Linked DNA regions of Homo sapiens. The protein of the gene in region 1 purifies or fractionates together with the protein of each later gene. This does not show direct contact. Each region holds a gene or a part of one and is shown on either strand. Other genes may lie near its edges.

Region 1 (3,652 bases):
AATGATCTGTAGAAACTAAACATGATATCTGGCATGGGATAAAAACTCAGCATTTACTAAATGAATGAATAATTGTATAATTAAATACACACAACTCTTAAAATTAGCCTTGTGTTTCTTTATAGGTCACAGATATATTTTTGCCGAATTCTCTTCAAATTTTGGGGCTTTACTGATTGATGCTTAATTTCTATGCAAATATACTAACGATAGAACCCGTTTAGTAGTTTTATCTCCAGTTTCATATTACAAAAGTAAAAAATTTTAATGAAATTAGTATGAGGACTAGATAAAAAAATAAAATAAGAACAAGAAAAAATAGAGAAAAAAGAAAGTTTTACTCTTTACTATTGATTTCCAAGTCAAATTTAATTATAACAGAAATGTGGGAAGATGCATGTTAGCTTTTGAGGACTACACTCATAACAGTTTAGGAAGGAGCTTTAGACTCACAAACTCACAGGTTTCTAGGGGAATATAAACTTACAGAATAGCAAAGAGTTAAAGAAAGATAAGCCCATGAAAAGACAACTTATTAGTAGACGTGCCCTGATCACAAGCTAATGTGATATAATGATTTTTAAAAGCCCTATCCTTCTTCTGTAATTCTATGTCTAGGAAGAAGGCCGGGCCTGGTGGCTCATGCCTGTAATCCGAGGACTTTGGGAGGCTGAGATAGGTGGATTGCCTGAGCTCAGGAGTTTGAGACCAGCCTGGGCAACATGGTGAAACCTCATCTCTACAACAAATACAAAAACTAATTGGATGTGGTGGTAGGCACCTGTAGTATCAGCTACTTGGGGGGCTGAGGTGGGAGGATTGCTTGAGCCTAGAAGGTCGAGGCTGCAGTGAGCCATGTTCATGCCACTTCACTCCAGTTTGGGTGATAAAACAAGACTCTGTCTCAAAAACTAAATAAGTAAATAAATAAAAGAAATAATCAGAGATGTAAAAAAAGATGTGCATGTGAGAATGTTTATCTCAGCTGTGTTTAAATTGCCAAAACATTAGAAACAACATAAATGTCCCAAAATAGGAAATTTGTATAAGACATTATTGTACACATAAAAATGGAATACTACACAGTTATTAAAATTCATATACTTGAAGAATATTTAACATTATATGTAAAGTGTTAGTTTAAGTATGATGTTTATTTAACCAGATATGACTAACCACTTTTAAGGAACTATGATGGATTTTTCCCCCAACTTTATTGAAGTATAGTTGACAATTTAAAATTATATGTATTTACCATGTACAACTTGATAATTCGACATATGTATACATTGTGAAATATTCACCACTATCAAGCTAAGTAAACTATCCATTCTGGCACATAGTTTATCTTTTTTGGGGGTATAGCTATTTTAAAAAACAGTACAAAGGTTTCTCAAAAATTTAAAAATAGAACTACCTTATGATCCAGCAATCTCACTTCTGTGTGTATATATCCAAAGGAATTGAAATCACTATCTCAGAGAGATATCTGCACTTCCATGTTAGTTGCAGCAGTATTTACGGCAGCCAAGATATAGAAACAACCTAAATGTCCATTGACAGATGAATAAATGAAGAAAATGTGCTGTGTATTTACAATGGACTATTAACCTTAAAAAAGAAGAGAATCTTGCCATTTGTGACAACATGGATCAACCTAGAGGACGTTATGCTAAATGAAACAAGCCAGGTACAGAGAGACAAATATTGTGATATTTATCTGTGGAATCTAAAAAGTTGAAGTCATAGAAAAAAGAGTAGAATGTTGGTTGCCTGGGGCTAGGAGGTGCTGGCCAAGGGGTACAAATTTCAGTTAAGCAGGATGAGTAAATTCTGGAAATCTAATGTACAACAATGTAACTGTAGTTAACAATATTGTATTGTATACTTGAAATTTGCTAAGGGTGTAGATTTTAAGAGTTTTCACCACCAGTAACAACAAGAAAAGTGAACTAAGATGGACTTTACAGAGGCAAAGCTTACAAAGCCCTCTCAGGAAAATTAGCTTAGCATCTACCTCTTAGGACTGAGCAGGCCAGGAACCTTGGTGACCTCGAGAAGAGAGAAGATTGCCCAAATGTACAGGAAAGCAGGTAGAACTTGGTGAAGAGAGTTTCTTGGCGTGGGAAGGAGCAGAAATTTGAAAGAGCAATTCATTTATCTGAATCGTCCAAGCAGTGGCTTCATTACCTAAGTTATTGTGTCTGTCTGCATGAAATCAATAGTTTATTTTCCATTAATTAGTGAGTGGTGGCTCCTGAGAAAGGTGAGGCCAGTTACAGACAATAAAAAAGCTACTTTTGGTTTGTGCAATTGAGTTGTAGGGTGAGTAAAAAACGTTTTGACTACATTGATTACCTATAGTAACAATAAAAATAATATCTCCAGACTTTTAAAAAGTATTATTTTTTTTAACTTTCATTTTAAGTTTTATCTTAACGTTTGTTATATAGGTAAATTGTATATTGCAAGGGTTTGGTGTACAGAGTATTTTATCATGCAGGTAATAGGCATAGTACCTCATAGGTAGTTTTTCTATCCTTGCCCTCCTCCCACTTTCGACCCTCAGGTAGGTCTTGGCGTCTGTTGTTCCCTTCTTTGTGTCCGTATGTACTCACAGTTTAGTTCCTACTTGTAAGTGAGAACATGGGGTATTTGGTTTTCTGTTCCGGTGTTAATTTGCTTAGGATAATGACCCTACAGCTCCATCCATGTTGCTGCAAAGGACACAATCTCATTCTTTTTTGTGGCTGGCTAGTATTCTATGGTGTATACGTACAACATTATCTTTATCCAGTCTACTGTCATTGTGCATTTAGGTTGATTCCATGTTTTTGCTGTTGTGAACAATACTGCAGTGAACGTACGTGTGCATGTATCTTTATGGTACGGTGATTTATATTCCTTTGGGTGTATATCCAAAAATGCGATTACTGGATTGAATGGTAATTCTGCTTTAAGTTCTTTGAGAAATCACCAAACTGTTTTCCACAGTGGCCGAACTAAGTTACATTCCCACCAGCATTGTATAAGCATTCCCTTTTCTCCATAACCTCGCCAGCATCTGTTATTTTTTGACTTTTTAGTAGTAGCCATTCTGACTGGTGTGTGAGATGGTATCTCATTGTGGTTTTGATTTGCATTTCTCTAATGATTAGGGATGTTGAGCATTTTAAAAAGTATTATTCTTATGCATATACACATAAATATTCATATACAAATATATATGCATATATTCTCTCCAAAAATATTCATTCCTGGCATAATGTATTTTGTTCAACATGACAAACAATCCTGTCTGGTGCTCAAGTCAAATTTTTTTCCCTTCAAAATTGATTCAAATAATAATGAGTCACTGCATTTTTTCATATCTTGTTTTGAAATCATGTACAGGCCATTGATTTCTTTCTGTTGGAGGCAGTTGAATATAACGGTTGAACCTTTGTTCAAATGCCGACCTGCCTGCATTAGCTGCCTGGTTAACTGTGTCTGACGTGTCACAAGTAGTCAGTAAACATTACCTGTTATTATTCTGTGATTGAACTCCTGTGGAATGGGAAAGTAGGATTCTAGTACTTTTTGAAAGTTTTAGTTCTATTCCTTACCCTTGAATATTGACCCTGACACCCCCATTTTATTTTCTTCTCCCTCC
Region 2 (3,752 bases), on another chromosome or scaffold:
AAAAATTAGCGGGGCATAGTGATGTATGCCTGCAGTCCCAGCTACTTGGGAGGCTGAGGCAGGAGAACTGCTTGAGCCCAGGAAGTTGAGGCAGCACTGAGCCATGATCATGCCACAACACTCAGCTTGGGCAACAGAGTAAGACCCTGTCTCAGAAAAAGAGAAAAGGAAAAAAAAAAAAAAAAAAAAAGAAATGAATGCTCAGAATTAATGTAACTTGCCCCAAGTCAGCTTGTTAGCAGCAGAGCCAGGAGAATTCTGGCTCTAGATCTACCCGTCATCAAATGCTGAAAGCTTCCAAGAAGAAGAAAGCTCAAGGCTTTTCCTCCAAAAGTAGTCATTAGCACAGAGGCAACAGTTGAGGCCATGAGACTGTGTAACTAATTCTTTGAAGGAGAACAGAAAAAGAATTCCTAGCAGATACCCATAATTAATTAAAAAGTGAAAGGAAGAGAGCCTAGTAAGAGACACCAAGTTGACAAGAATATGCAACAGGGGAGGGGGAAAAAAAAATCAAAACCAGAAAAGTGCAGAGTCAGGAAAGCCAAAAATGGAGTAGGTACTCAGTGATTTTAAATGCCAAAGTTGGAAAAAGGCGCGGATTTGGCATGAAGATATCACATTGTATGTGTGAAATTTTTTTCAAAAATTTAATTCTTAAAACATTAGCGAAATTTAAAAATTCCTTTGAAATGTTTATGACTAGCAACATCCATTTGGTACATTAATAAGGGGGACTGGATTTTTCATATATTACACTTCTTCAATGTTGAAAAATTACAAAGGCTAAGAAAATAAAACATCTATTAACTAGCCTTGTAGAAAAGTAATTTGATCTTTTAAATACAGATCAACTATATATAGTTCAACATAACCAGATGAGTTATTGCACTTTTTATTTGCTAAGAAAATATTTTCAGCTTTTACCTACTCCACATTTGAGAAGTTTTTGATATACATAAACAATAGTTTACTATACTTTTTGCTGCAATCTATTTTGTCAATTCAAAGGTTCAACAAAGGAAAAGAGACAGTTATACAAAGGCAAAACTACATGCATACCCAAAGCAAAATTACATATGAAGTAATTTACCAAGTTTTAATAGTAAATGTTATTAGAAATAATATGGGCAATCTTCTGATCATATATTTAACTTCAATCTTAAGTGGGAATTAGTACGCAGAGAAAAGAGAACTATTTTATCCTTATCCTAACACGAGGGATATAAAATATTTTTAATTCAAATCAACATTAATTAGTGATATATGGAGAACACAGCACCATCTTTGCACAAATCAAGTTTTAGACCCTTGGAAATAATATTTATCTTAGAGCTTTAAAACATTTAACAGGACTGCCAATGAATTAAAAGTTTAAAAGACGCAAATGAGCAAATCAAAACAACTTGCTACTGACCTTGTTCAAGTCTGAAGAGGGTCTTTTCCAGTTTCTCCATTTCGTTCAGAAGTAAAATTCGAATCTGTTTACTGTGTCCCATTTTGGCTTCTAGAGGATTTGAAATCTTTCATAAGAATTAAAAGAACTCCACAGTCGAATGAGTTACCCCTATGAAACAAAAAGGAGTTAAAATATCGAAAATAACTATTGCCTTAAACTCTCCAGAGCTGACAGCGGCACTTACATGTTCGAAGTGTGTTTTATGCCTAGCAGAGCAATGAAAGAGAATGAATCTTATAACTATTAAGATTCGAGAAGGCAAATTAATAGTTGTTTCCTGCCTTTGAGCACAACGAATAAGACCGAAATAAAAATGCTGTATTACAGATTCTTACAATTAAAAAATTAAAAACCTAGACCATTCTCAGAGAAAAGCAATACACTTAGGAAAGCCTGAAGTCAGGGGGACATTCCCAGCCCCAAGCCACAGGGCTCTGGAGACTCCGAATGGCACTTCTGCTTACAAGAGATTAGTCTGCTCAAAGATAACAGGTGGGCAATCTCCCCATTCCCAAATTCGGGTCGCCAGCCACCAATGGGGAGATGAGAACAGAGGGAAGCAGTTGTTGCCTCTGGAATAGCTGCCGTAGACAGAAGATGTACAGAGCGAGCTATAGATAGAAAGAATGCGTTTCCCCGCGAGGCCAGCGGCATTCCTAGCACTTACGCCGAGGGAGTTATACGTGCGGCTTCTGGGGCACTGCAGGACCCGCGACTCTGGTGCTACGGTCGGGGGGAGGGGACGGGGAGAAACAGAAGGGGAAGGGCTGGCTGCCCAGCCTCGCACAGAAGCCGCAGCCCAAGGAGGGCCGGGCGCCGTGAAGGGCAAAGGGAGGGGCGGCGAGCGACCGGGGCAGCGCCGAGGCAGCTGGGTGAGAAGCAGGCAGAGTCTCAGCGACTTCGCCTCGCGCGGGTTCCTGGGCGCACCCGGTACCCAACCTGGCCGTGCGCGCACTCGCCCCAGGTGGGAGCGGACCGTACCTCTGGCCCACTTCCGGGAGGCTCGACCCGCCCGCCCCGACCGCTAGTCTCGCGAGAGCGTGGGCACCGCACCGTCTCAGTCGGCTCCGGGCCGGGGGACCTGGAGCCTGCTGCGGCTGAGGCCGGGAGCGGCGCTTTCTCCTTGCCCTGGGGAAGGTGCACCGGCCAAGGCGCGGCCTTCCTTTAACAGCCTGCGAGCTCACAGTTGCACATTAAAATCCCGCGGTACCGGCTGCGAGCTAGGTTGAGCTGCACAGTAGGATCTTTTGCTGGGAAGGGCTGAATGGTGAGGGGCAAACGACCTGGCTTCTGGTGTCTTTTGTGCCACCACGTGTTTTGTTTCTTTGTTTTGATAATTTTTACTTGGCCTAAGTTCTCAGAGTCCTGATTTCTAAGTGTCTAAAATAAGGGGCCTGGCTACAGCCTTGACATTCCAGCCAACACGTGTCCATCACTTCTAGTGCTAACAGACAGGACACATGTTCCTGAATGCAGACCCAGTAGGTAAGGTGTGGCCAGTCTGCAAACCATCGAGAGTGCAAACACCACTGATACTTAACGGTGTCCGGGTGTACCTCATGTACACTAGATAGACCCGGAGATCGTCTGAGATTAAGCTGCACTTATGTTAGGCCAGTAACTCAGAACTTTTTGCAGATGCTTAAGGAGATTTAATGCCTGAGGGTAAAGGAAAACCCATCTTCCAGGGCTTTTGGAGGGCTCCTAATGGTTATGAGAAAATGGACAGAAGATTTGGTTAACTAAGACTTGTGGCGTGTGGAGAAGATTCTTGCATTCTTTATTGTGGAATGACTGTAGGTCCAAAGAGGATATAAGTTAAAAAAAAAAACCCCATACTGAAGTATTTGTTTATTTCTGTAGATTTCTGAGAATGGCTAGTTGCAAATGGTCCGTAACTGACTTTGGGAACCCACAGCTCATTTTCTGGCCCCTACTATTTGCCAGGCACATAAGGTGCTGGGAATGCAGCAATAAAACAGTCACTGCCCTCAAGGAACTCCTACATTTTATTGGTGGGAGACAGATAAATTAAATAAATTATACAGGATATAATATATCCTATATAATAAGAAGGATATGTTATATCCTATATATAATAGGAAGGGGGAAGTGTGGAAGAGTAAGCAGAGAGAGGTTTGCATTTCTAAATATAACGTTCAGTAAAGTGATGCCAAACTGCGAGAAAGAAGAAGTCTAAGGTAGAGGGTTACATGTAGAGGTATAGGAAGTACAAAGGCCATGAGGCAGGAGCATACTTGGTGAACCGAAGAAGATCACCATAGCTGAGTGA

Evidence for each region. Proteins that work in one complex are often made in the same cells at the same time.
Region 2: the proteins of ASB15 (region 1) and AGL purify together in Homo sapiens (affinity purification with mass spectrometry, with the first as the bait; one large-scale study listed by BioGRID). This does not show direct contact.

The regions. Positions count from the first base shown.
Region 1 is NC_000007.14:123,604,759-123,608,410, reverse strand, and holds part of ASB15 (ankyrin repeat and SOCS box protein 15), read right to left. Parts: intron 1-3,652.
Region 2 is NC_000001.11:99,848,790-99,852,541, reverse strand, and holds the start of AGL (glycogen debranching enzyme), read right to left. Parts: upstream 2,182-3,752; 5' UTR 2,127-2,181; exon of another isoform or gene 1,924-2,126; intron 1,922-1,923; exon of another isoform or gene 1,644-1,921; intron 1,568-1,643; 5' UTR 1,500-1,567; coding exon 1,418-1,499; intron 1-1,417. UniProt on the Homo sapiens protein: Multifunctional enzyme acting as 1,4-alpha-D-glucan:1,4-alpha-D-glucan 4-alpha-D-glycosyltransferase and amylo-1,6-glucosidase in glycogen degradation.